7 separate regions of the Homo sapiens genome follow, and regions 1, 2, 3, 4, 5 and 7 are each linked to region 6. Evidence: fine-mapped expression QTL. A gene starts in region 6. Each other region holds a variant in brackets. All regions are shown on one strand. Distances are from middle to middle. Region 1 overlaps LOC105373411 (a long non-coding RNA gene). Region 2 has its middle 2.6 kb from the start of ADAM17. Region 3 overlaps ASAP2 (ArfGAP with SH3 domain, ankyrin repeat and PH domain 2). Region 4 overlaps ADAM17 (ADAM metallopeptidase domain 17). Region 5 overlaps LOC101929643 (a long non-coding RNA gene). Region 6 holds the start of IAH1 (isoamyl acetate hydrolyzing esterase 1 (putative)). Region 7 overlaps YWHAQ (tyrosine 3-monooxygenase/tryptophan 5-monooxygenase activation protein theta).

Evidence for each region.
Region 1: its variant is fine-mapped to the expression of IAH1 in testis (GTEx, PIP above 0.99).
Region 2: its variant is fine-mapped to the expression of IAH1 in whole blood (TOPMed, PIP 0.98).
Region 3: its variant is fine-mapped to the expression of IAH1 in whole blood (TOPMed, PIP 0.94).
Region 4: its variant is fine-mapped to the expression of IAH1 in whole blood (TOPMed, PIP above 0.99). The same link has a PIP of 0.9 or more in lymphoblastoid cells.
Region 5: its variant is fine-mapped to the expression of IAH1 in whole blood (TOPMed, PIP 0.96).
Region 7: its variant is fine-mapped to the expression of IAH1 in blood mononuclear cells (TOPMed, PIP above 0.99).

The regions. Positions count from the first base shown.
Region 1 is chr2:8,596,364-8,600,431 of GRCh38, forward strand. It overlaps LOC105373411 (a long non-coding RNA gene), which reads right to left. Exons shown (of 3, transcript XR_001739274.1): 3 at 2,506-4,068. Among named protein-coding and RNA genes, the nearest start is that of LINC01814, 15 kb to the left of the region's middle. The variant G/A (reference allele first, on the strand shown) is at 1,587.
Region 2 is chr2:9,556,444-9,560,511 of GRCh38, forward strand. No RefSeq gene overlaps it. Among named protein-coding and RNA genes, the nearest start is that of ADAM17, 2.6 kb to the left of the region's middle. RefSeq lists silencers at 1-45, 17-311. The variant A/G (reference allele first, on the strand shown) is at 2,369.
Region 3 is chr2:9,260,659-9,264,726 of GRCh38, forward strand. All of the region lies in intron 1 of ASAP2 (ArfGAP with SH3 domain, ankyrin repeat and PH domain 2), which reads left to right. Among named protein-coding and RNA genes, the nearest start is that of ASAP2, 56 kb to the left of the region's middle. The variant C/T (reference allele first, on the strand shown) is at 1,870.
Region 4 is chr2:9,513,279-9,517,346 of GRCh38, forward strand. The region is part of intron 10 of ADAM17 (ADAM metallopeptidase domain 17); the gene reads right to left. Among named protein-coding and RNA genes, the nearest start is that of ADAM17, 41 kb to the right of the region's middle. The variant C/T (reference allele first, on the strand shown) is at 1,707.
Region 5 is chr2:9,572,692-9,576,759 of GRCh38, forward strand. LOC101929643 (a long non-coding RNA gene) reads left to right here. Exons shown (of 3, transcript XR_922777.3): 3 at 2,624-4,068. Among named protein-coding and RNA genes, the nearest start is that of ADAM17, 19 kb to the left of the region's middle. The variant C/A (reference allele first, on the strand shown) is at 1,780.
Region 6 is chr2:9,472,344-9,476,411 of GRCh38, forward strand. IAH1 (isoamyl acetate hydrolyzing esterase 1 (putative)) reads left to right here and starts at 2,208. Exons shown (of 6, transcript NM_001039613.3): 1 at 2,208-2,304; 2 at 3,644-3,696. The coding sequence starts at 2,224. It overlaps CPSF3 (cleavage and polyadenylation specific factor 3), which reads left to right. Exons shown (of 18, transcript NM_016207.4): 18 at 573-758. The coding sequence ends at 674. RefSeq lists a silencer at 1,980-2,749 and enhancers at 2,019-2,786, 3,267-3,827.
Region 7 is chr2:9,618,771-9,622,834 of GRCh38, forward strand. The region is part of intron 2 of YWHAQ (tyrosine 3-monooxygenase/tryptophan 5-monooxygenase activation protein theta); the gene reads right to left. Among named protein-coding and RNA genes, the nearest start is that of YWHAQ, 10 kb to the right of the region's middle. The variant G/A (reference allele first, on the strand shown) is at 2,174.

The DNA.
Region 1 (4,068 bases), 880 kb before region 6:
AGTCTGCTAGGAAGTGACCTGGGTATCTTGACACCCGGCTGCCCGGGCTAACGATGGGCCCTCAGAATGGAACCCTGGAGCCTGGCAGGGCGGAGGCTGCCTGGGAACCCGCCAGGGGTTCCTGTTTCCTGGGCCAATGTGTGACCAGAGGAGTGCGAGTGTGTGTGAACATGCAGACCGTTTGTAAGTGTGTGTGCACTTAGGGGTGTGTGTGTGTGTGTGTGAGGGAATGTGTGGTATGGGGTATGTGTGTGTGTGTGTGTGTGTGTGTGGTGTACACATGCGGTGTGGGAAGGGCATGAATGAATGTGGTGTATATTGTGTGTGTGGTGTGTGTGTGTGTATATGTGTGGTGTGTATGTATGGTGTGTGTGGTGTGGTGTGTGTGTATATGTGTGGTGTCTATGTTTGTGTGGTGTGTGTGTGGCAGGTGTATGTGTGGTGTGGTGTGGTGTGTGTGTGGTGTGGTGTAGTGTCTGTTTCTGTGTGTGGTGTGTGTGGCAGGTATATGTGGTATGTGTGTATGTGTGTGGTGTTTGCGTGGTGTATGTGCGGTATGTGTGTTGTGTGTGTGTGTGTGTGTATATGTGTGGTGTATGATATGTGGTAGGTGTTGGTGATATATGTGTGTGATGTGGTACATATATGGTCTGGTGTGTGTATATGTGTGGGGTGTGTGTGGTGTGGGTGTATGTGGGGTGTGTGTGTTGTGTGCTGTGATGTGTGTGTGTGATGTGGTGTGTGTATATGTGTGGTGTGTATGTGTGGTGTGGTGTGTATGGTGTGTCTGTGGTTAGGTGTATGTAATGTGCATGTGTGGTGTGGTATGTGTGTATGGGTGGGGTATGTGTGGGGTGTGTGGTGGGTGTATGTAATGTATGTGCAGTGTGGTGTGTGTGTATACATGTGGTGTGGGGTGTGTGTGTGTGGGGTGTGTGTTGTAGGTGTATGTAATGTGGGTATGGTGTGTGTGTGTATATATGTGGTGTGTATGTGTGGGGTGTGTGTGGTAGGTGTATGTAATGTGTGGTGTGGTGTGTGTGTATATGTGTGGTGTGTATATGTATGTGTTGTATGTGTGGTGTGTTTGCATGTGTGGTGTGTGTGCACTCATGCACACTTACACAGTGTGTGTGAGCATGTTGGCCCTGTGTGGCTCTTTGCGTGTGAGTGTGTGCCATGTGTATGAGCGTGTGTGTGTGTGTGTGAGCCTGCTACCATTGTGCCTGTGATATGCTGAGGAAGCCTGCAGAGAGCAGGACTGGGGTGTGGATTCCAAGTCTTGGCCAGTGCACAGCAGGATGGGGACCAGGGAAACCCCTCTCCTGAGCCTGTGCCCTCTCGAACATAGGGGCAGGTTCGCAAGGACCAGAAGGGATCTGCCTCCCATCTGCCACCGCCCCATCAAAGGCAGAGCTGAAGTGAGATCAGTTGGGTTAGGGCTCCACGGAAAACCAGGTAAGCCCCAGGGACCACAGGCCGACTAAGGCTGACAGCAATTAGCTGATTAGTGAGGGGCAGAGGGCAAATCCAGTTCCACAATCAAGGACCATGAATGCAGAACTGTCAGTGGATCCCATGGGGGT[G/A]GCGCAGGGGCATGGAAATGCCCTGGCTCAGGACACGGAGCAGCCAGGTCAGAGCCCAGCTGAACTCTTAGGAGCTATGTGACCCTGGGCTGTTCACTCACCCTCTCTTGGCCTTATTCCACTCGCACACTCAGATGCTATTATAACAAGCAGTCCCTGGACAGCAGTCAAGTCCACAGAGGGGCTCTGCAACCCATGACATACTACTCAATTGCTAGTTTCCAAAAAGTACCTGGGGGCTGATCCAAAATGTGGGAATGGCAGGTCCCAGCAGAGAGAGAGAGGCACTGGTAAAGCCGGGAGAGTGAGGCCGCCAGGCATCACCAAGGGCCACACGAACCAGGGAGGAGTGACAGAGGCAGGAGAGGAAGCTGGGGGACAAGGCCCAGCAGAGGGCCCTTAGGCTAAAGGAGGCCGTTAAACAGAGCAGGAGATGGGACAGTCAGCACTGGGACGAGACATGGGGGCTGACTTGGAGACAGTGAGACCTGATAGGAAGACATCACGCAGGAGTCCTGTTGCATCACTGTGAGTCACTCTAGGAGGATTATGCAACATATGATGAGTGTACAATATTAGCCGGGCGTGGTGGCTCACGTCTGTAATCCCAGCACTTTAGGAGGCCGAGGCTGGTGGATCACTTGAGGCCAGGAGTTTGAGACCGGCCTGGCCAACATGGTGAAACCCCATCTCTACTAAAAATAAAAAAATTAGCTGGGCATGGTGGCACGCACCTGTAGTCCCAGCTTCTTGGGAGGCTGAAGCATGAGAATCGCTTGAACCTGGGAGTCAGAAGTTGCAGTGAGCTGAGATCGTGCCACTGTGCTCCTGCCTGGGTGACAGAGAGAGACTCTGTCTCAAAAAAAAAGAAAAAAAGAAAGAATATGCAATGTACAGTGAGTATGAAATATACGACGAGTATGCAACATAAGATGAATATGCAACATATGATGATTATACAATGTACAGTGAGCATGCAATATACAATGAGCATGCAACACATGAATATGCAACACTTGAGTATGCAACATAGGATGAATATGCAACACATGAATATGCAAAACATGATGAATATGTAACATGAGTATGCAACATGATGAATATGCAACATATGGACATATACAATGAGTCTTCAATTATGATGGATGCAACATGTAAATATACAATATATGAGTCTGCAATATACAATATACAAGGAATATGAAATATGAATATGCAATGGATGAGTATACAACAGATGATTAGCATACAACATGTAATAGACAAAATGCAATGAATATACAACACACGGTGTGTATACAACATACGATGAGAATACAACATGCAATGGCTCTACAATATAGAATATAAAATCCATGACGAATATACAATATACAACGAATATACAATACACAGTGAAGGCCTGAGCCCAGGTGGTGGGAGTGGGAGCAGAGTAGAGGCTGGAAAGGTCACTGGGGAGAATAACCAGGACTGGGCTGCAGGAGGATGTCGGGCTTAAGTGACGGCGACTGGAAGCAGGACTCTCTGCTCTCTAGTTTGGGAGACAGCCAGGGCTGCGGCGCCATCTCCAAGACGAGGAAGATGTGGCCTCTAAGAACAATTAAACCTTTCTGGAAACGTTTCTACCACTTCCTGGAAGCCTTCCGAGGATCCCACCTCAGTCTTCCGGCCGCCGGTCCATCACTGGGGCTAGAGGATTTGAGGAAGCCTCACCTGCATACAGGTCAGCTGGTTTGTAGGAAAATATCCTGCCCATGTCCCCTCCGGAGGATTAACCAGAAAAAGGCATGTCTGCTGCCCCCTCGGGGACGCTGGGGCAGCTTGGTGGGAAGGGTTGGGTTCAGAGGGCTAAAAATGGGCCACAGGTGCTCCTAGAGGCCACCATGTGGGAGAAGCCAGACCCAAGTCCACTGGGGCAAGGGGAGGGCCTGGGCGCAAGCAGACACAAAGTCCAGAAGGCAAAGGCAGGGGCACAGGTGGGAGGAGCCCAGGGTCTGAACCCCGGTGAGAAGGCCAGACGGTCAGAGAGGGAAGGGTCTGGGGCAGGCCCACCATGCCTGTCCCTTCCCAGGGAGATGCCACCCAAAGGGGCGGGGCTTGCCCCTGGTGCCCCAGGTGGAAAGCCCCAGTCAGAGCTGCAGGAATCCCATCCGGGCGTGACTTCAGCACTGCAGCCCCTCGGCCCAGCACTCTCCACAGGGCCTCCTGCACACCCTCTGAACAGAGGCCCAGGACGGGGCCCCTTCCACAGCCAGGCCCAGCATCAGCAGCCCGAGAGAATGCTATGCGTTCCCAGCAAGTGGGGAGCCGCCCCTGGCTTTGGATAACTTGTCCCAAAGCCCCTTGCTTTCTGACAAGAGTACCCCGCTCCAGCTGTGCTCGGTTTTACCTCCACAGTTCTCCAAGCCCTCCAAACTCAGACCCTCCCACCAAACCCATTTCCTCTCGAGGGTCTCATGGTGGTGGTGAGAGGGCTGAGGTC
Region 2 (4,068 bases), 84 kb after region 6:
AGTCGTCTGAGGCCTCCATCCGTCTGTCGTCACGAAAAAGGTTTTGGGGGGACTAATAAGCACTTCCTGAATGCACATTTGCTCCACGCCCCTGCTGTAGGGAGAGGGTCTGCAGACACTTCAACAAATAGAATCCTAGGACCTTACCTGTGAGTACAAGAGCTGGAATCTTCCCACCAACTTCTTAAAATTCAATCCTATACTTGGTCCATTTAGCTTAGACTGGAAATTTCCCAAGGCAGTTTGTTTTGCAATCTTTTGCATGATTTTAGCTCTGTATAGTTTAGTGAATGTTTATGGTACTGAATAAAACAGTCTAAAAACGTTGGGTACATGTTGCTGTTTTATTTAGTTCAACCAAAGTTTATAAAAGTAGGACATAATACGTTTTCCACTTAAGAGTGAGACAGCCTTTATTATGAAACGGTAAATTGTTAGGAATACTAGTCCTATTCAAGTTTCAAGGCTTATTCCTAATAAAATACTCAAACTGTGGTTAAAATTTATGTTAATGGTGGTTTGCCGCAGTAAAATATCAGCGTCTTTTTCAACAATACATTGTTGGCTAAAATTAACCGGACCTGGTCTGTACATCTGAAGTATAAAATATCTTTATTAAACATACCCATTAGTGGCATACCTAGTCAAAAAGTAAGCAGAATTTCACATGCAAATTGTATACAATCTGTAAAAATTGTATTCCATAAGAATGTGACAGTTGAGTACGGTTTTTGGGGGGCTTTTTTGGTGTACCATAATAATGTCATCTGGTTTCTTTTCTGAACATCCAGTCACCATAATGTCCGGCTTGTAACTTTAGTAGATCGTAGATTGTATTATTTTGGTATCCCCAACAGCTCTTGTACAGTGCCTTGCTCATAGAAGGTACTTAGCTGTTTAGTAAATGCCGTTTAAAAAAAAAATCCCGATCCATTTTCTTTTCTTTTTTTTGGGGGGGGGTGGTGGGGGAAAGAGTTTCGCTCTTATTGCCCAGGCTGGAGTGCAATGGCGTGATCTTGGCCCACTACAACCGACTGAACACCTCCTAGGTTTAAGCGATTCTCCTGTCTCAGCCTCCCAAGTAACTGGGATTACAGGCGCCCGCCACCACGCCCAGCTAATTTTTGTATTTTTAGTAGAGATGGCATTTCACCACGTTGGCCAGGCTGGTCTCAAACTCCTGACCTTAGGTGATCCACCCGCCTCGGCCTCCCAAAGTGCCAGGATTATAAGCGTGAGCCACCGCGCCTGGCCTGAATAACCAGAAGTCCTAGATTTCCAGGGACATTCCAAATTTCAAGTAATCTTTTCAATTCACAAATCAGGACCCAAATTATTCCAATTTGCAGTTCATCTTTCATTTATCAATTGTGCATACTTTTAAGATAAAAGAGCACCACGTGGGGGAGATAAAGAGCCAAAGGAATATGGTAAGAGGGGCACTGGATAGATTAATTAGTTTATCTTTTTTTTTTTTTTTTTTTTTTTTTGAGACGGAGTCTTGCTCTGTTGCCAGGCTGGAGTGCAGTGGCATGATCTTGGCTCACTGCAGCTTCTGCCTCCCAGGTTCAAGGGATTCTCCTGCCTCAGCCTCCCAAGTAGGTGGGACTACAGTTGTGCGCCACCATGCCCAGCTAATTTTTGTATTTTCAGTAGAGACAGGGTTTCACCATGTTGGCCAGACTGGTCTGGATCTCCTGACCTCGTGATCTGCCCGCCTTGGCCTCCAAAGTGCTGGGATTACAGGCATGAGCCACCGCGCCCGGCTCTTTTATCTTTTGAGACGGTCTGGCTCTGCAGCCAAGGATGGAGTACCGTGACACAATCACAGCTCACTGCAGTCTCGACCTCCTGGGCTCAAGCAATCCTCCAGCCTCACCCTCCTCAGTAGCTGGGACCACAGGCATGCACCACCACACCTGGCTAATCTTTACATTTTTTTTATAGAAGTGGAGTCTCGCTATGTTCCTCAGGCTGATCTCAAACTCCTGGCCTCCCAGAGTGCTGGGATTACAGGTATGAGCCACTGCACTCAGCACCAAAATAATTTTTTAAAACTATATACCCCCTGGCCAGACGTGGTGGCTCACACCTGTAATCCCAGCACTTTGGGAGGCCGAGGCAGGCGGATCACGAGGTCAGGAGATCAAGACCATCCTGGCTAACACGGTGAAACCCCGTCTCTACTAAAAATACAAAAAATTAGCCAGCGCAGTGGCACGTGCCTGTAGTCCAAGCTACTTGGGAGGCTGAGGCAGGAGAATCACTTGAACCCTGGAGGTGGGGGTTGCAATGAGCCGAGATAGCGCCACTGCACTCCAGCCTGGGCGACAGAGGGAGACTCCATCTCAAAAAAAAAAACAACTAT[A/G]TACCCCCTAGGTGTATCTTTAAAGTTTTTCATCATTAGCGTAGTAGTAGCAAATTATGAAACTTTCAGCATAAATACTGACATTTAAAATTAAAGCTGTTAGGTCATTATTTTAAAGTTTTCCAATAGAGTATAAATACCTCAAAGATTTGACAGCCACAGTGGTAGCCCAGCCTCCAAGATGGCCCCCAATGATGCCTGCTTCCTCTTCTACACTGGGCCATAGTTGGTCTGTGACCACTAGCATGCAGCCGAAGTGATGTCACTTCTGAGGTTAGGACACAAGAAACTCTGTCCTCCATCTCAGGTGCTCTCTTGCTTGCTTGTTTCCTCTTGAATCACACACTCTGGGGGAAGCCAGCTTTCATGTCATGAGAACACTCAGGAAAACTATGGAGAGGTCCAATAGAACAGGTCAGCAGCCAACAAACACCAAGGAGCTGCCAAAGACTATGTGAGTGAGCTTGGAAGGAATTCAGCCCCAGGCAAGCTTTAAGATCACTGCAGCCCCTGACCTACCATCTGACTATAACTAAGCTACTCCCAGATTCCTCAGCCTCAGAAGCTGGGAGATAAGTGTTCGTGGTTCTAAAGCTCCTAAATTAGGGGTAATTTGTTACACAGCCACTATCATCTGTTCAAAAAAATACGTAAACAAGTTGATGGGATCCTGGGTTCTTAACACCTGAAGTGATGCTTTTAATTTAGGATTTAATAAAGATAATTAAAAATATTTCCTGAGGTTCCCCAATCCCATGCTGTGGAATTAATTATTCATAATTTAGATACCGCAAGTGAATTTAAGAGTAAACATTTGCAGTTATTAAACACATGAGCCACATATGGTTCTGCAGTTAACTACCAAACCCACACAAGTACCAGTAAAACCTTGTCTAAATGACCAGAGAACTAACTGGTTCTGGCTGGGTGTTTTGTTTCCTTCTATCTATTTCTCTAGCTCTATTTCTCTTATTAGCCAATTTTGTCTTACACCAACCCCACCAGTTTTTATAGATGGATAGAGCCATCCTCACTGTTTCTAAAATGGTAATTATTCCTGCATTTGTATGCTTTTTTGCTGATGAACAAATCTGTGGAAAGCAGTCGCTTTAAGTATGAGTCAACCCACAAATAAGACAACAGATGCCACTTAATGAAAAATAGGACTTTATACAAAGTCATGTGCCAAGAACTCTAATTTCTAAGGTTTTGGTTAAGAAATTTTAACCCATTTTAGAAAAAATCAACCTTTTTTTTTTTTTTTTTTTTGAGACGGAGTCTTGCTCTGTCGCCAGGCTGGAGTGCAGTGGCGCGATCTCAGCTCACTGCAACCTCCGCCTCCCGGGTTCAAGTGATTCTCCTGCCTCAGCCTCCCGAGTAGCTGGGACTACAGGCATGCGCCACCACGCCCAGCTAATTTTTGTATTTTTAGTAGAGACGGGGTTTCACCATATTGTCCAGGATGGTTTCAATCTCTTGACCTCATGATCCGCCCACCTCGGCCTCCCAAAGTGCTGGGATTACAGGCATAAGCCACCGTGCCCGGGCAAAATCAACCTTTTAGAAAAATGACAAATATGCATGGGACAAAGCAGAGACATCTGCAGATCCTCACTGATGAACAGATGATTTTGGGGGGAATTTTTTTTAATTGTTATAAAGTCTCCTTTCTTTCTTTTTTTTTTTTAGAGACAGGGTTT
Region 3 (4,068 bases), 210 kb before region 6:
TCTCCCTTCCCTATTCTGGGTTTTTCTCCTCCCTGCTTCCCATTCTACCATAGGGGAATGGGGTCAAGTCTTTTGGATGGGAAACAGGAACTGAGAAGTTGAAGATGGAGAAATGAAAGACTAAAGATAGCAGGGTTTTAATTTTCCCTCTGAAAAGCCCAGGAAGAGCCCCGGATTGTGTAACCTGGACACATGCAAATGATGACCCTGCCCCTACTCTATCTGCTTCTCCGCCACCCTGGCCCTTCAGAAGATTCTGAAACAAGGAATTGGTTACCCAGGGTGGTTAGGGGGGTTGTGCCTGTGTCCCTGGTGAACTTTAGATTCTTGTGCCCCTGGTGAACTTCAAATGCTAGTGTGCTGGGAGCCGTATGACAGCCCCTTGGGGTGGCAGGAGCTGGCTTGTGTGGAGGAGAGCCACTGGCAGCTTTCTTGGTGAAGGGGTGGACAGCACTCTTGGTGTGGAAGTAGCAGCCCCCTTGCCTGTAGCTGGGCTGGGGTTAGTGGAACAGGGTTTAGAGAAAGCAGGGGTAATGCCGGGTGGTTATTTTCCCCAAATGTTAGAGAAAGCCAGCGCTTCTGGCTCTGGAAGTGAGGCTGTTGGGAAGTGGGAGGGGGAGCACAGCTCTGGAAGCTGCCTTCCGTCCTCCCTCCATTGGCTGGAGCTCTCCCAGCATTTCATCGGTTCAAAGCCAAACACATGATTTTGGACAAGTCACTTAAACTCTTTGAGTCAGTTTCTTCTCCTTTAAGCTGGGGAAAGAGGTGGTGATTTCACAAGTGGTTGTAAATATTGCAGTAAAGATAATGGAAGTAAAAGTGCTCTGTGGAGTGTAAATTGCTGTATGGTAGTTGGAGTTGGGCCCTAGGTGTGATTTTAGAGTACACACCTACTGCTGCCTTGGTAACTTAAAAGTATTTATCTCAAATGCTAGTGAGCTGAGCTGAGTGGCACAGTAGGCCTTTCTTTCCCTGGGAGCACTTTGGGAGCTTTGGAGGTTGCCCAGTGCTGCCCCCAACCTTTAACAGTGTGGCCGAGTGTAGGAGGGAGGGGGCAGAGTTCCTTCTGGCTGGACTGCCACATGCAGGGGAGAGGCCCCGCTGGTGGTGTCCCAGGTGGGAGAGGGGCAGACCTGGGGTTACCTCAGTCAGGGTAGGTGAGGAGGGGATGGGTGGACACCCCGGTGGCCACTCCTACTCACCCCTGCACTTAAGACCTGGGGTTTCATGCCCTGCTCCTTTAACCCTCAGTGTTCAAGAGAGAGGCCAGTTGGACCAGAGCGCCTCACCCCACCATTTGCCATGTGCCCCTCCCCGTGGGGAGTCAGAAACACCTGAGCACACCAGGAAAAGTTTTGAAAAACAATGTTTTTAGAGACAGGGTGTTGCTACGTTGCCCAGGCTGGACTCAAACTCCTGGGCTCAAGCGATCCTCCTGCCTCAGCCTCCTCAGTAGCTGGGAATGATAGGCGCGTGCCATCATGCCTGTATGAAGTTTTGAAAAATTTAAATGTTGATGGAAAAAAAAATGTATTAGTGGAAATGAAAGGCTGGTATAAGCTGTAAAGTCTTTTTGTTCTTAGAGATTTTTTTCTCATTCTAAACATTATCAGACCTGAAAAGTATTTGTCGTAATGACTGAGACGGTCCTGGGGTAACAGCGTCTTCTTAACGGCCACTTTAATTGGCGTAGTTTACACCTAGCCTCTCCGAGAACTGGAGGACACTGGTAATCACTATTAGATATTGAGTGCTGACTGTATGGCAGACACATAAGCATTGGTGATCTCCTGTGAGGCAGGTATTGTTATTCCCAATTTATAGATGAAGAAACAGAAGTCAGTGAGGTGGAGTCCGTTTTTGAGGTCA[C/T]GCGGCTAGTAATTGGAGCCTGGTTTAGAACCAAGTCAGTCTCATTCCAGAATCCAGAACCAGTGATTTGTAACTGATGCACTTGTCTCCAAAGGGATCCAGCACTGGGTTTTCTCATTTTTAATGCATCCATTCCTTAAAGCCTCTGTTCACAGTCACAAGGTGTACTTTTTAAAGGAACACAGCACACAAATGTGACCGCTAGTGGACAGCAGTGGCAGCCCAGTTGGATGGCAGAGCCTGGCATGCCGACTGGGACAGAAGCCCCAGCACACGGTGTGATGATGGCGTCTCCAGGCTGACCTCCATGGCCTCAGGAATCAAAGTCCTCAGTCTCTTTCACGCGGGGTTCAGAAAGAAAACTCGGCTATCTTACATCTCCTCTCCCCTGTTTATTTGACTAAAGTGAAGTTCATGTGGCTTGAGCCTCGTTTCCTGGGGAAATCAGCCTGGCTTAGGATTCCATTGTCTTCTGGGACTGGGAAGATGTGGAAGGCTGACCTCACGCCCAGCTGAAGGTCACCTTCCCAGACTCTGAGCTCGGCTGCCTTCTGCATCGCCACGGCTGGAGGGCCTGGCCCAGGCCGTGGCTGCATGCTGGCTTTCCACTGTCTCGGTGTCCCTGCTGCCTGTCAGTAATGTGCCCAGCACCTTCTGGTGTCATGTCCCCTCTTGTTTGTGATTCTTTTCCTGAGCTAGTCCATTTTCTACCTCGAGTCTGCTCTCCTGCCATTCCCAGGGGCCACAGCTCAGTAATGTGGGTGTCAGGGAACCCCAGGCCAGGCCCCCTTGTGCCACTGTGGCTCTCCCCAAAGCAGGGCACCAGGCTGGCTGGGGGGGTCCTGCCCAGAGCTGCCCCACGCTGCCGTGTTTGTGCTGCTGCTGTGCAGTGGTGATCTTGCCAAAATGTGGCTTTTCCTTTCTCACTCCCCCAGAGCTCCCAGAAAAGTCTCTAGGACTTTTCTTCCCCCTAAATAAAAGTCAGGATGTGAAGCCTTTTGACAGAATTGGAGTTTACTGTCATCTGTTTCCGTTTCTCTAAGATAGGGATCCTGGCGAAGCCCATGAAAGCCATGGGGCGCTCCCACCGAAGCCTCCGAGGCACAGACCTCCCGGGAGTGCCTGTGGGCGCTGCTTCCTTAAACTGCAGGAGGCTGCAGCCTCTCGTTGTTCATGCGTCGTTTTTTCATAGTGTGTGTGGGTTTAGAGCTACATGGGTTCTTTTCTCACTTATCTGTTCATACCGCATGACACCGTCCACTTCAGGCACAGTTGACGGCCGTCTGGAGGTCATCAGCTGAGGGCACAGTTTGCCTGGTTCTTCTATAATAGGTTAAGTATTTTTTTCTCCATTTTTTTCCCTTTTAAAAGTACTGCTAGAAGGCCAGGTGCCGTGTCTCACACCTGTAATCCCAGCACTTTAGGAGGCCAAGGCGGGCGGATCAGTTGAGGTCAGGAGTTCAATACCAGCCTGGCCAACCTAAGGAAACCTCATCTTTACTAAAAATACAAAAATTAACCAGGTATGGTGGTATGCACCTGTAGTCCCAGCTACTCAGAAGGCTGAGGTGGGAGGATCACTTGAGCCTTGGAAAGAGAGGTTGCAGTGAGCCAAGATCACACCACTGCACTCCACCCTGGGCAGTGAGTGAGACCCTGTCTCAAAAAAATAATAATAATAATAATAATAATAATAAACACAAGTACTGCTGGAACTTCTTTGCAGAAACAACTTGTGGGGAAGGAGGGAGGTATATTTTAGTATTTGGCCTTGGGAAAAGGTTTTGCTTCTGCAGGCATGTCTTCCAGAGACTGGGGGGGCCCGTGCTGGCGTCACCACTGTCCCCTTCCCCATCAGGAACCTTCCTTCCTTGGATGGCATTTCCAGTGTGTCCGGGCCTCTGCTGTTCTCATTATGAGTCCCCAGCTCTGACGGCCACTGTGGCTGATGCACAGGGTGTTGGAGACAGTGATTCAGCCCAGCAGGCTGTATTCATGTGCTGTTCCTCTGTACACCCAGAGCTGTCTTCTCGCTCATCATTTATTAATCTTTCCCATGCAAGTCATACGTGAATATATCCTTGTGGTAAAGTTTTCAGGTGATAGCGAAAACTCAGTCTCCTGTCACCGTCTTCTCTCCTCATCTAGGTGCGCGCTATAACTAAGTCCTTTGCCTCTTCCAGAGTTTTTTTCTCCCTG
Region 4 (4,068 bases), 41 kb after region 6:
CCACCGCACCCAGCTTCTTTGTATCCTTTAAAATATCCTATGTAATAAACCCATAAACTAAGTTAAGCTTTTCCCTGAGTTCTGTGAGCCACTTAAGCAAATTAATCAGACCCAAAGAGGAGAATGTGGAAACCCCAACTTGAAGCCAGTTGGTCAGAAGTTCTGGAGGCTCAGACTTGTAACTGGTGGGGAGGAGGGAACAGTCAGTCTTGTGGGACTGGGCCCTCAAACTGTGAGATCTGATACTATTTCCGGGTGGAGAGTGTTTGAATTGAATTGGAGGACACCTAGCTGATGTCTACTGCTTGATATGTAGGGGGAAATCCCCACACGTTTGGTCTGGTCACACAAGTCTTCTGTGTTGATGATGATGGTTGTGATGTGAGAATAGAGGGAAAACACAGTTTGAGAGATTTTTTCCCCTAAAACAAAGTACCATAAGAAAAAAATAAATTTAGAAATTAAGGCCAAGCACGGTGGCTCACGCCTGTAATCCAGCAGTTTGGGAGGCCGAGGCAGACGGATCACCTGAGAGCCAGCCTGACCAACATGAAGAAACCCCATCTCTACTAAAAATACAAAATTAGCTGGTCGTGATGGCGCATGCCTGTAATCCCAGCTGCTCAGGAGAAAGAGGCAGGAGAATTGCTTGAATCCGGGAGGCGGAGGTTGCAGTGAGCCAAGATCACACCATTGCACTCCAGCCTGGGCAACAAGAGAAAACTCCATCTCAAAAAAAAAAAAAAGAAAAGAAAAAAAGAAATTAAAAGATTCCCAAAAGCTAATTAGTGTCTTTTTCTTTTCTCATACCACTCTACATTATTGTTCAACATTGTCCAACAATGATAGACTGGATTAAGAAAATGTGGCACATATACACCATGGAATACTATGCAGCCATAAAAAAGGATGAGTTCATGTCCTTCGTAGGGACATGGATGAAGCTGGAAACCATCATTCTCAGCAAACTATCGCAAGGACAAAAGCCAAACACCGCATGTTCTCACTCAAAGGTGGGAATTGAACAATGAGAACACTTGGACACAGGAAGGGGAACATCACACACCGGTGCCTGTCGTGGGGTGGGGGGAGGGGGAAGGGGGAAGGGATAGCATTAGGAGATATACCTAATGTAAATGACGAGTTAATGGGTGCAGCACACCAACATGGCACATGTATACATATGTAACAAACCTGCACGTTGTGCACATGTATCCTAGAACTTAAATTTAAAATATAAATATATATATATATATATATATATATATATATATATATATATATATATATAAATAAAAAGAGACAGGGTCTCAGGCCAGGCACGGTGGCTCACGCCTGTAATTCCAACACTTTGGGAGGCCAAGGCGGGCAGATCACAAGGTCAGGAGATTGAGACCATCCTGGCTAACACAGTGAAACCCCGTCTCTACTAAAAATACAAAAAATTAGCCGGGCGTGGTGGTGGGGGTGCCTGTAGTCCCAGCTACTTGGGAGGCTGAGGCAAGAGAATGGCATGAACCCAGGAGACAGAGCTTGCAGTGAGCCAAGATCATGCCATTGCACTCCAGCATGGGAGACACAGCGAGACTCCATCTCAAAAAAGAAAAGGAGGATCTCGCTAAGTTGCTCAGGCTGGAATGTAGCGGGTATTCACAGTTGCATTTATCACACTACAGCCTCTAACTCTTGGCCTCAAGTGATCCTCC[C/T]GCGTAGCTGGGACTATAGGCTCCTGCCACCACCTGTTTTTAAATCACCCAAAGTCCACAGTTTATGTTAGGGTCCACTCTTTGTGCTGTATATTCTATGTGTTTCAACAAATGCATAATGTCTTATACTGACTGTTGAAGTATCATACAGAGTAATTACCCTGCTCTCCACCTATTCATCCCTCCCTCCCCCAGCATCTAGCAATCACTGATCATTTTATAGTCTGCATGGTTTTGTCTTTTCTAGAATGTCATATATTTGGAATCATATAGTATGTAGCCTTTCAGACTGGCTTATTTTACTTAGTAGTATGCTTTTAAGGTTCCTCTATGTCTTTTCATGGCTTAATAGCTTTTTATTTTTTTCTCATTTTATGGATGTGCCAGTTTATCCATTTACCAACTAAAGGATATCTTGGTTGCTTCCAAGTTTTATCAATTATGAATTAAGCTGCCATAAACATTCTTATGGCTGGGCGTAGTGGCTCACACCCGTAATCCCAGCACTTTGGGAGGCTGAAGCAGGCGGATCACCTGAGGTCAGGAGTTCGAGACCAGCCTGGACAACATGGTGAAACCCCATCTCTACTAAAAATACAAAAATTAGCTGGGAGTGGCAGCGGGCACCTGTAATCCCAGCTACTCAGGAGACTGAGGCAGAATTGCTTAAACCTGGGAGGCAGAGGTTGCAGTGAGCCGAGATGGCGCCATTGCACTCCAGCCTGGGTGACAAGAGTGAAACTCCGTCTCCAAAAAAAAAAAAAAAAGAAAAAAGAAAAAGAAAAGAAACTGCCAACTGCCTTCCAAAGTGGCTGTTCCATTTTTGCATTCCCACTAGCAATTAATGAGAGTTCCTGTTGCTCCATAGCCTTGTTGGAATTGTGTTGCCAGTGTTTGGGATTTTAGCCATTCTAATAAGCTACTAGTAATAGCACATTGTTGTTGGGTTTCTTAAAGTTTTTTATAGAAATAGGATCTCACTAATGTTGCCCAGGATGGGTCTCAAACTCCTGGGCTCGAGCAATCCTCCCACCTCAGCCTCCCAAGCAACTGGGACTACAGGCATGTACCCCTACAACCAGCTTCATTGTTAATTTGCAATTTCCTAATGACATATGACGCTGAGCATCTTTTCATATGCTTCTCTGCTATCTGTATATCTTTGGAGGTATCTGTTCTGCTCTTTTGTCTGTTTTTAAATTAGGTTGTTCATTTTCTTATTGTTGAATTTTAACAGTTCTTTATACATATGGAAATTTTTATTTATTTATTTATTTTTAATTTTGTAGAGACAGGGTCTGACCATCTTGCCCAGGTTAGTTTCAAACTCCTGGGCTCAAGTGATTCTCCTGCCTCGGCCTCCCAAAGTGCCGAAGATTATAGGAATGAGCCACCATGCCCGGCCTCTTTGTATATTTCAGATAGCAGTCTTTTCTCAGATGTGTCTTTTGCAAATGTTTTCCCATACCCTACACCAAGTATAACATCATAGTCAAAAAATCAGTATACCAACCAGCCCTTTAGGAAGCCAAGGTGAGTGGATCACTTGAGGTCAGGGGTTCATGAGACCAGCCTGGCCAACATGGTGAAACCCTGTCTCTAAAACAAAAATACAAAAATTAGCCAGGCGTGGTGACAGGTGCTTGTAATCCCAACTACTCAGGAGGTTGAAGCAGGAGAACTGCTTGAACCCAGAAGGCAGAGGTTACAGTGAGCCAAGATGGTGCCACTGCCCTCCAGACTGGGCCACAGAGCAAGACTCTGTCTCAAAAAAAATAAAAATTAAATAAAAATTAAAAATCAGTATATCAGATACTAATATGTCCTACCAACATCTCTCTCCCCTTCTTCCTTACTTAATGAGCCCTAATTTTGCCCAGGACAGCAATATACTCAGCTAAAATAGCCAGCTTTCCACATTCCGTTGAGGCTAAGGGCAGCCACGGGACCCAGTGCTGTCCAGTAACATATAAACAAAAGCCAGGATGGGGCCTCCAGAGAAGCTTTTTAGAAGGGCCAGACTAGGCTAGCCATGTTCTCTTTCTCCTCCTTTCTCCAACACAGAAGAGAACCATCTTAAAACCATGAGGTGACATCCATGAGGACAAAGACTTCCTGCTTGTTCTTGAGCCACTGAGGGTACCTCTGAGTTGCTGTACCACCCAGAAAATGCTATCCCTGAACTTCTTGTTGACTGAGACAAATAAACCCCTTATTTAAACCACTGCTTATTTAATTTTCTGTTATTTGTAGTCAAACACATTTTAACAGACATAGCTGGAGAAAAACAAGATCTTAAGATATTCCAGAGAAAAAAACAGGTGACAAACAAAGATAAGAACTCAAAATGACTTCAGATTCT
Region 5 (4,068 bases), 100 kb after region 6:
AGAGTCAAGATTCAAATCCAGAGACATCTGACTTCATTTCCCTTCATTAACAACCATCTAAGGAAGTTCCTATTACTTTGGGAACTCCTAGTAGCAGGTGGTTAAAAAAAACTCCTGGACAACATACTATGCTATTTGAATCATCCTACTTCTTACGCGTTCCTCCAGGATGCACTCTTCTCCCATTCTGAAACTGACAGTTCTCTTTACAAACTGTGTATGTTTCATTCCTGGATTGCATCTGAGCTGCCGCCATGGAACGGGCATTGAGTTTTAGCGTGTGTGATGTCCCATGTGTTCATTTTGTCTCCCCACACTATAAACTTGAGAGGCAAGGCCAACTCTTTTATGTCTTCAAATGCTTTGCTGCCAAACACAGGATTGGAAATGGCCAACAAAGACTAAAATGCTACTTCTCTACCCTTTTCACTATGCCATCTACTGGAAATTTAAGCAAGACTTGCAGAGATCACTTCAGGTTATCTGTTCCCCTGCAAGAAACACTTGTGGTTTGGCCTGAAATAGTTTTCTGCTGATTCTTTCTCTACAGCCCTGAACCCTAAAAACAAATGAAATGCATCAACACAATACTAAATGCCTACATATTATTACTATTATGTCTTTAAAAAAAGAGTGAAAGCTTTTTCATGTTTGCTTTAAATCAACCATGTAGAAACTGGAGGGACCAGTGAAGAGGAATAGAGGGAATGAACTCAAATGCTCTAACTTGCAATAGGACAGTTGGGTTCTTACTTTGACTCACCTGACCTTTACAACCATTAGCCAGCTCACATGATGCCCAAACAAGTTGCTGAGCCTCCTGCCCATCCTCTGTATATATCCCTGGTTTCCTGTCTCAAGCTTTAGGCTAATCTCCATCAACACTGACCTCACATGAATACTAAATGCAGATGTCTGACCTCATATTTCTCTGCCAGTCAGATCCCTGGCCTCTTTACTACAGACCTTAAGGACCAGTTCTCAAACTCATCTCATTGGCATCTTTTCACATCACGAAATCTATCTGGTCAGGATTTGAATAAAACTGTATTTTTACTTTAATACAAAAGAGTCAACATGGGCAGTGACTAAATAAAGGGGGTGGGGACAGAGTTAACACGAGCCACCTATGCTGTTACATATATATATATCCCGATTAATTTCAGTTGGTGAAGAGGAAGACCCTCGGGCACAGATTTCAACACTGTGCTGGACTCAGACCCAAAATCCTTTGACTTATTTTTATTTTTTGGGATGAGGTCTCGCTATGTTGCCCAGGCTGGAGTACAGTGGCTATTCATAGGCACTATCATAGTGCAGGGTAGCCTTGAACTCCTGGCCTCATGATCCTCCCACCTCAGCCTCCCTAGTGGCTGGTAGCTGGGACTACAGACACAACCAGCCCTCTGACTTATTTTTACTACTCTGCTGTGAAACTCACCCGATCTTTACTTTGGCCTTCATTATTGAGGCTTCCTTAAAGCAGTGGTTCTCAAAGTACCAGGTCCTGATCAGCAGCATCAGCATCAATTTGTTAAAAATACAAATGCTCTATGGGGCCCTACCTCAGACTTACTGAATCAAAACTCCTTAGTCAAGACTTAACTGCTGGTAAGTGACTGAGTTTTTGGTCAAAGGCATTTCCTTTTAGCACTTGTTCTCTGGGTCCTGATTTTTCTTTACTTATTTCAACAGAATGACCTTTCCCATTGTATTCCATCAGAGAGTGCTAATTAGAAGCAAAACCACAGCTTAATTGTCTTTTTTTTTTTTTAACTT[C/A]GCATTCCCAAGTTACACCGTCATTTTCTTTTTGTGACTATGCCCTTGAAAATCTAGGGCAATAGGTCTGCTCAGTGTTGTTGATTTTCTTATCCACAAGACTGGTTTCACTTTATTAGAACTTTCTAGTTCCAAAATTAGGCTATCCTGCTAACTTCCTTCCCACTTGAGTGTTCCACTACATACATTCCACAGCCCTTTACACTTGGAAATACTTTCACACATTGGCTTGCAGGCTAGATAGATTGTCCACCTTTTATCTGTAAAAGGTAAAACAGAAACTCAGTGAGATTAAAGCCATAGCTATAAAGTAGTGAAGTTTAAAGTTCTGGTACCTACTTCAGTCCCTGACTCATAACAAGCGCTCAATATATTTAACAAGTATGTGAATGACCATGGAAGCCAGATCTTTGACTTCTAGGCTGGTTTTCTTTCTCTTTTTTTTTTGAGATGGAGTCTCGCTCTGTTACCCAGGCTGGAGTGCAGTGGCACGATCTCGGCTCACTGCAACCTCCGCCTCCCAGGTTCAGGCAATTCTCCTGCCTCAGCCTCCCAAGCAGCTGGGATTACAGGTGCACGCCACCATGCCCAGCTAACTTTTGTATTTCTAGTAGAAACGGGGTTTCACCATGTTGGCCAGGCTGGTCTCGAAATCCTGACCTCAAGTGATCCGCCTGCCTTGGCCTCCCAAAGTGCTGGGATTACAGGCATGAGCCACTGCACCCAGTTTCTGGCTGGTCCTTTCTATCTCTAGATCACACAATCTCTCATGTTACATAGTTGTGGGAATAGACAAGTCTAGCTCCAAAAAGCGTTAATAATCTTGTCCCATTTATTTTCCTAGCTCCCAAGTTGTGATGTTGCCACCAGTATTAGAACACAGTGGTCTCCAAAATCTTGCCAATGAATCCTCCAAGGTGCGTACCAAGTTCCGGAATAACTGAAAGAACATCACATACACAGGCTGGGTACAGTAGCTCACATCTGTAATCCCAGCACTTTGGGAGGCCGAGGTGGGAAGACTGCTTAAGGCCAGGAGTTCAAGACCACCCTGGGCAACATAGTGAGACCTTGTCTCTACCCTCCTCCCCAACCCCCCCCAAAAAAGCACCACCTGTCAAGGAGAATGGCATGGCGACATGGCTGAAACACAGAGCCTTATCTAAAGACCCACAGGGCTAGAATGGAGAAAGAACTCTCAGAACAAATTTCAGATAGGTAAAAAACCTGGTAATGTCAGTAGAAAATGAGAAACAAATAGTCTGGCTTCCTTCAAGGACTAAAGGACCTGAGTTACTCCCATACAATGGTGGAGAGTAGAGCCCACAAGATTACTGAATAGCAGAGATCTTTGCAATGAATGCCAGCTTCCAGTACACACTTCCACAGGAAAGTGAAGGTTAATCTAGCTTAATTCAGTGCTTTAACTCCTCTATACCTCTGACAGGAGAAAGAAAACCAGGCTACACTGGAAGTTAAATCTCAGTTGGACTTAAACTTTTTCTAGTTTTCTTTTTTTTTGGAGACGGAGTTTCACTCTTGTTGCCAGGGCTGGAGTGCAATGGCACAATCTCGGCTCACTGCAACCTCCGCCCCCCGGGTTCAAGCAATTCTCCTGTCTCAGCCTCCCAAGTAGCTGTGATTACAGGCACCTGCCACCACACTGGCTAATTTTTTATTTTTTTTTATAGAGACGGGGGTTTCACCATGTTCGCCAGGCTGACCTCAGGTGATCTGCCCGCCTCGGCCTCCCAAAGTGCTGGGATTATAAGCGTGAGCCACCGCACCCGGGACTTTTTCTAGTTTTCAACATTGTTATCTATACATCCTCAAGTGTAAGCTGTCACAGGAAGAAAAATGTGTCTTTTTTTTTTTTTTTTTTTTTTTTGAGACAGTCTTGCCCTGTCACCCAGGCTGGAGTGCAGTGGCGTGATCTCGGCTCACTACAACCTCCACCTCCCGGGTTCAAGCAATTCTCCTGCCTCAGCTTCCTGAGTAGCTGGGACTACAGGCACCTGCCACCATGCCTGGCTAATTTTTGTATTTTTAGTAGAGACAGGGTTTCACCATATTGGCCAGACTGGTCTTGATCTCCTGACTTTCTGATCTGCCCACTTCGGCCTCCCAAAGTGCTGGGATTACAGGTGTGAGCCACCGCGCCCGGCCAATTATTTCTTTCTTTCTTTCTTTTTCTTTTTTTTTTTTTTTTTTTGAGACGGAGTCTTGCCCTGTCACCCAGGCTGGAGTGCAGTGGTGCGATCTTGGCTCACGGCAAGCTCCACCTCCCAG
Region 6 (4,068 bases):
CTAGAAGATTATTAGTGAGTTTCAGTCAAATTCAGTACCAAATGTTGAGTAGATAGCCACATCCATTCCTTGCCAAGTAATTTGTGTGGCATAGATGAACTTCCCTGGAGTATCATTTACTAGATCAAACTGTGGGCTTTGATGTAAATGTAGTTTACTAGACTTTCCCCAGTCTTTCACCCCAGCCTCAAGTCATCACTAATTAGGACCGTGCTGCTGTCAGGAAGCACTGCACGCCCACAAGTGTGTAGGGCGGCCGTTCTGTTTCATGGTAATCAGTCCCACCATGACCTCTGCACACACAGATGATTGTTCTTTTTTTTAGTTTGAGACCCGGTCTCGCAGTGCCGCCCAGGCTGGAGTGCAGTGGTGCAGTCACAGCTCACTGCAGCCTCAACCTTCCCGGCTCAGTGATCCTCCCACCTCAGACTCTTATCTGGGACCACAGGCACACGCCACCACAGCTGGCTAATTTTTTATGAGATGATGGTTTTTTTAAAGAGTATTCATTTATCTTCTATATAATCATTATAGACTTAATTCTAACAGTCTTGTTTGTGCCTCACTTTCAGACTGTAGAATGTGAAGAGGGAAGTGAAGACGATGAATCCCTCCGAGAAATGGTGGAGCTGGCTGCACAGAGACTGTACGAGGCCCTGACGCCAGTTCACTGAGACTGTGCCTGTATATGAACTTTGAAAAAATACTTGACTCTACTTTTGTTACCTAAAATAAAATGCATTCGTTTCTCTGGGGGAGCCTGTTTACTTTTAATGTCAAATGGCCTTTATTTCAACAGCCTGAATACTGCTAAATTGCTAATTAATTTGTCCATTATTCTAGAACTAACTACTAGATCAACTGCCCATTATTTTAGAATTTTGGATTCTTCTTCCAGGCATGTATGTGCAGCTCCCATTGAAACCATCAAGATCTGCCGATAGCAACCGCTGCTGGTTACCCTCTCCTCTGGGGTAACCAATTTGAGTTAATAATAAGGATTCTAAGTTGCACTTGAATCTTTTCTGTCTTCATCTCCACTGCTGCTGTTCGAGTCCAAGTCTACTCTCCCCTCTGAATTCCTGCAACCACCTCCATCTCCTCCCCTATAGCTGATTCCTGGAACAGACCTGGCCTCAAGCCTCTGCTGCTTGAAGGCCTTAATGAAGTCCTTGTGATAAAGATGAAGTCCAGGCACCTTTGCTTGCTCTAGCAGGGGCTCTCAATCTGGGCTACCCGTGGGAATCACGTGGGGTGCATCACAAGTGCACCTGTGCCCAAGTCCTGCCACCAGGAGGTGAGTTAGTCCGGCTGGAATGAGGGCCCTAGGTTGGATCTTAGTTGTAAAGCTCCCCCAGGTGATCCAAGCGAGCTTGGGACGAGCAACCTAAAGAAAGTCATGCTCTACGCCCATCGCCCCGCCCCAGGGAGCGGGGTCGGCCTCTGCGCCGGCGCCCCTGGCCCTTCTGTTACTCATCTACAGCTCCGTGATTTCAAGGCATCCTTCCCACCCGTTCGTTTTTAGCTCGGCTGCCGAACTTCATTGCACAGTTGAGGTAAGAACGTTGCATTACAACCACGTTTTAACAGGTGAATCCCTTGGAAGTTAGTCAGTGCTCCGTGTCCGCGGGGTTCTGCATCTGCGCATCCACCCCACGGCGGGAAAAAGAAAAGCGGCCGGCTGCGCGCGCACTGAAGGTGCAGCTGCTTTCCCTTGTCATTCGCAGAACCACGAGGTACTGCCAGGGTTTCCGCAGTGCCTGCGTCCTCGTGGGTGTTACAGGCCCTCCAGAGTGACGCTGGGCGCAGGAGGCCGCGCGCGCATCCCACGACCTCTTCCAGGGGGGCCTGGAGCAGCCCTCCGCCCCACCGAGAGCCAGCTGTGCTTCCCGCCGCGCGTCCTGAGGTCACACTCCTGCCCTTTGCCGAACGCACCTGCGCCCGCGGAGCGCGGGGTGGGCTTAGAAGGGCCCCCAACCGCTTTTCTTCCGGGAACCACGCAGCGGGACGCGGGCTCCGGACTCCCTGGGGGCAGCCTTGCTGTGGGTGAGCAAGCGCGGAGGCCGAGCTTCTTGCAAACGGACTCCAAGGGGCAACGACCTTCGCGCGTCACCAAAGTGACTGCGTGGGTGCCCACGAGCCCGGCTCCCGCAACCCACGGGCGGCCACTGCGCAGGCGCCTCTCGTGGCTGGCGGCCCCGCCCCGCCCCGCCCGGCTGCTCCATGGCGCTGTGCGAGGCCGCGGGCTGCGGGAGTGCCCTGCTCTGGCCTCGCTTGTTGCTCTTCGGGGACTCCATCACCCAGGTACGGCCGCCCCGACGCTCGGCCTCCCGCCCCGGCCTCCCTGCGGGGTCGCTGCCGAGCAGGCCGAGGCTCCTCGCCGTCCTCTTCGGCGCCCGAGACGGCTGGGCCGGAGGCCTGGCCACGCCCGTGGAGACACCGGAGGAGTGGCGGGTCCCCCAGTGGCTGCGCCTTCCGGGCCCGCGGCGTCCCGGAGGTCACGACGGCGTCCGCGAGAGCCCGGGCTCCAGGCACAGACGCGAGGGGACCCGGCCGCGCTGCCCGCCCCGCGCCGCCTCCCACCCGGGTCGAGATGCGCGGTCTTCCCCTCAGCGCCCTCCTGGGCAGCGGCCTTTCCCCTCCGGGTCCGGGTTAGCGGCCGCGGGCGACCGCGCGCTGTGTCCCAGGAGGCCCCGCGGCCAGCTCCGGGCAGAGGCGCCAGGAGCTCTCTCGCCCCATTCCCTGCGGGCACAGGTGGGGCCGTTAGGGGTTGACCTTGGAAGTAAAACGCCTTCAGGAATTAGGTAGAAAAGGACCATCCGTTCATCCAAGATCATCTCACCTCCCATGAAGGGAACGGTCTTCTAAATGCAGGTTCTTACTTCGGGGAGGGAGTAGAAATTCCATTCCTGTGTGTGTCCTCTTCTCAGACAGGACTTGCTTCACCAGGCTTTTGTGTATACGCCAGTAACTGGTAACATTATGTTTAGGCATATGGGGCAGTCAGAGCTGCCGAATTCCATGGGAATGTGTATGAAAAAGTGTTCACCCTCAGCTCGGTAACCAGCAAAGCAGTGAGGCGGTGTGGCCTTCATTTCCTCACTGACCTTTGACTTTATTTCCTGAACTTAGATTTCTGTTTAGCTTTTTTTTTTTTTTCTTTTTTTCTTTTTTTGAGACGGAGTCTCGCTCTGTCGCCCAGACTGGAGTGCAGTAGCGCGATCTCGGCTCACTGCAAGCTCCGCCTCCCGGATTCAAGCGTTTCTCCTGCCTCAGCCTCCCGAGTAGCTGGGATTATAGACGTGCGCCACCACACCGGGCTAATTTTTGTAATTTTAGTAGAGACGGGGTTTCGCCATGTTGACCAGGCTGGTCTCGAACTCGAGACCTCATGTGATCCGCCCGCCTTGGCCTCCCAAAGTGCTGGGAATACAGGCTGTTTAGCTTTTGATAGAGAAAAATCCCCCTCTGCTAAAGTGCTGCCAGGTGTACTTACCTGTAATCCCCAAAATGACCTCCTGGAGTGAAGCAATCAAAGCCAAGAAGGGAGCGCCGAGAAAACAGAAGTTGCCAATCAGAACTGCCCTCGCTGAGATGCCCGGTTACAGTCATTAGTAGTAATAATGGGCTTTTCTTCCTCCAGTTTTCCTTCCAGCAGGGTGGATGGGGAGCATCGCTGGCTGACAGGCTGGTCAGGTGAGAATGGTTTCCGATACTTGAGTTCTTATGGATGGAAAATGTCTTAGGGATCCGTCTTATGGATGAAGGATAGTTCTGAACAGAACATTCCTCCTTTATTAATTTTGCTTGCCTCCCCTAATCAGTATATAGGAGAAGGAACAGAAAACATTTACTCTTCACTCAGTCTGACCAATTAGATATTTTAGGGTTGAGCACTGATGGCTGGGTAGACTCAGACAAATCAAGGAAATGGCCAAGGCCTCTTCCCTAGTCAGGGGCAGACAGATCCAAGTCCAGCTGCTATGACTGCAGAACTTGCAGTTTCACTGCTACACCACACTGGTAGGAAGCTACTTTGCCTTTTTTTGAAGTGCTGCCATGACTTAA
Region 7 (4,064 bases), 150 kb after region 6:
CCCAAATTGCTAGGGTTATAGGTGTGAGCCACCCTGCCCAGCCTATGTTTATTTCAGATGTTCAAAACAACAAACAAAAATAACACACTAGAAAAAATGATCAGAGAATACGTGTTAAATGAGAAATAGTTCAGGGCTTTTATAAATTTGTGACCTCCACCCTTCCCCTTAGTCCTTTTTCTCCATAAACTCTAATTACAAATTCTACTACCACAGCAAAAAAGAGGAATACATCCTTCTGAAAAAATAATATTTGAGAATCTATACTAATAATCTTAGTAGGTCCTTTAAAGACTCAACAGACGTGGGGGCTAAATATGTTGCTTTGGTATCCTGATATAAACTTAAAAGAAAACTACAGTAGTTTCATCAATAGCTAAAATAAGTTTATAAACATTTACCAGGCCATTTTGATTACAAGCAGAAATGTTCAGAAACCTGTCCTGGACAAAAAATAAATCACTAAGTGCTTTTTGGTATCTGTATAAGAAGGATCACCTTCCAGAGATGTACAGCTGATCGTCAACAACAAAATAGAGGTATACAACCTTAAATCCTACCTGCTGAGTTATTCAAACTGCATCAGTGTACACTGTACTATTTAAAACAGCAAGAAATAAGGCATGAAAAACCCTAACAATAAATACAGTAATACCAAAAAAAGGTATTAAATGTTTAAATGTTATATGTGCACTTCAGCCCAGGAGGCAGAGGTTGCAGTGAACTGAGATCGTGCCACTACATTCCAGCCTGGGAGACAGAGGGAGACCTTGTCTCACCAAAAAAAAACATACACAAAAAAACAAAGAGTTACATGTAAAAAAATTAAAAATATATTAAAAATTTAATTATGTAAAAAGTAACTTCCACAGAGCATAGCTATATTTAATGGGATATTCTATCCTTCCAAATGGTGGTCTCTGCAATCAGGCACCAAATAATCAAGAGTATTTTAAATCCGTAATGTAACCTTTCCAACCTCTTATCCATCAGAATCCCAAGAGGGCAAACACTAGCACTGAAGATCTAAAAAGTATATTCCCAAATGACTGGAAACAGTACCAGGCTGAAAGATCAGAACACCTAGTATAAATATGTTTAACTGCAGAGGTTTAACAACTGTAGCTTTTAAGAGCAAAAATCCTGTGAGCTGCATTCAAGTAATGTTTGGTGGAATGTACAAAACAAGAGGGAAAATGGAGTACTAATTATTGAAGAACAACAGCAGTAAGAGTTATTCAGGAATAAAATGTCTAATCTGATGATCCATATAGCTTATGGCTTTAAAGCATTTTCACACACTTCTCCATTTATTTCCTCCAATCACCGCGACATGACGTTCACAATCTATGACCATCCTTTAAGAAAGCATTTAAATTTATGTAAGTTCTTATCATCATGGTCTCACCACTTGCACCATTATTTTTCCATTTCTCTAAGTAAAGCCTGTAGCAAAGGTACAGGAGACAGAATGTTCAAATGAAGAGTATCGTACAGAATATGTATTTAGTACCACACTGTGCCAAACCCAACTGGATACTGTAGTAAAAATCCAGATGACAAAGAGATCATGAAATACTACTCATCTGGATAGAAAAACATGTAAACTGACAATCAAAGGTTGGTATGAAGACAAGTTTCACTGATAAATACTTTGACCAATGCTGGTTAACAGCTAACCTGACTTACTGCCTCCAAAAGCTGTGTATTTTTAAAACTTAAATGCAACCAGCTCTGAAAGACCATTATCCATATTTTTCATGGATGTCAACTCTGCTTTTTGGTCAGGTATTGGGAGGGGCAAGTTAAGAGATTATTAACTTCATATTATCCTTCTCAACACAAGAAAGCAGAAAGACATTCCAACATACCAGATCTTTAGCTGGTTTCCAGGAATTAACAGGGACTTTTATTACCCAATGTCTAATATCAACTATTCTCCTTTCTTCATTATCACATCTGTGATTTTCCTGGTCTTCAAACCTATATTCCTAGGGATAAGATGGGGTGCAGGGGCAGAGAAATGGGAAGGGTGGGGAAGGTTTTACAAATTCCATTATCACCACATATGATGACTACTCAGAAAATAAACTGCTCAATCACCCAAACACAGTAATAAAATTCTCGTAGAACAGCAGTTCTACTATTAACTTCAGTAATTAAATTCTCATAG[G/A]GCAAAGTATAGTCTGGGAACCCCTAGAGGTCTCCCCTATATCCTTTGTGGGGTGGAGAGGAGACAAAGTAAAACCACTTTCATAAGTCTAAGATATTTGCTTTTTTTCCACTGTCATTTTCTCACAAGTGGAGTTTTCCAGAAGCTACAGGAGGTGGAATACTACAATAGGTTGAATGAAATGCAATGCCGCTATTCTCATTCAATTTTTTGTTAAAGTTATTTTATTTTCTAAAAAGGGGTCCTGAGATCAAATTTGTGAACCACTGTCCCAGAGTATGGCCAATTAAGACGTCTTACACAGCATCTGGTAACTCCATCAATCTACTTAGCACTCATCACCCAAACAAAAAAGTGATGGTGCCAGTGATGTCTCCTAAGTGGGGATCAATACCGTTCTATACATTCTCGTATCTTGAGGATAACAAGACACAGGCTACACACTATCTTCTTGCTATATGTATTAAAGACACTCAACCAGTGATGTGAAATATCATAACCCCCAATACATGGCAACCAACAATTACAGTGAACACCCCCACATATCCACCACCTGGATCTTACCATTAACCTTTTGCCATACTTGCTTTTTCAGATACCCATACATTTCTAGCAGTTACAAGCTGAAGACATAAGTACAGGCATATCACTAGTTTTTTTTCAAAGCAAAATTTACATACAAAATGCACAAATCTTGGGTGTACATTTGCTGAGTTTTGACAAATGTATAAAACCCAAACCCATATCAACTAAAGAATACAATTATCCATTCTACTATAAAGACACATGCACACATACGTTTATTGCAGCACTATTCACAATAGCAAAGACTTGGAACCAACCCAAATGCCCATCAACGATAAACTGGATCAAGAAAATGTGGCATATATACACCATGGAATACTATGCAACCATAAAAAGGATGAGTTCATGTCCTTTGCAAGGACATAGATGAAGCTGGAAACCATCATTCTCAGCAAACTAACACAGGAACAGAAAACCAAGCACCGCATGTTTTCACTTACAAGTGGGAGTTGAACAATGAGAACACATGGACACAAGGAGGGGAACATCACACAGCGGGGACTGTCAGGGCGTCGGGGGCTAGGGGAGGAATAGCATTGGAGAAATACCTAATGTAGATGACGGGCTGATGGGTGCAGCAAACCACCATGGCACATGTATACCTATGAAAGAAACCTGCACGTCCTGCACTTGTATCCCAGAACTTAAAGTATTAAAAAAAAAAAAAAATACAATTATCCCAGAAGCCTGCCCCTTCCCAATCTCTGCCTATTCTCCCACAGAGGCCATTATTCCTGATTTTTTTTCCTACCATAAACAGGTTGTGTTTGTTCTAAAATTTCATATAAATGGAATCACATACACTATGTACTTTTTCATGCAAAGTTTCTTTCACCTAGCATGTTTTTGAAATTCAATCATATTGTAGTATCAGTGGTCCATTCATTTTAATGCTGAATAGTATTCCATTTATGAATACATCAGTGTTTATCAATTTTCCTACTAGTGGATTATTTCTAGTTTTCTGCTCTTAGAATAAAGCTGTTATTAACATTTTTGTACCTATGCGCCTTGGCCCCATGCATCATTCCCTCTTGCGTAAACACCTAAGAGTGGAATTTCTAGGGGAGGAAAAACTTATAATAGGGAATTTTAAAGGTACACAGGAGAACAAAGAATAGTACAATGAATTCCAATTAAAGCCAGCTGCAACTATATTAATTCATAGACACTCCTGTTTCATCTGTATTCCCCCAATTACTCTGAAGTCCTAGGTATTATCATCATTTTGTCTTTAAATACTCAATATGCAAACAATAGTTTCAAATCTAGTAATTTATCATATTTATCACTGACTTATCTATGG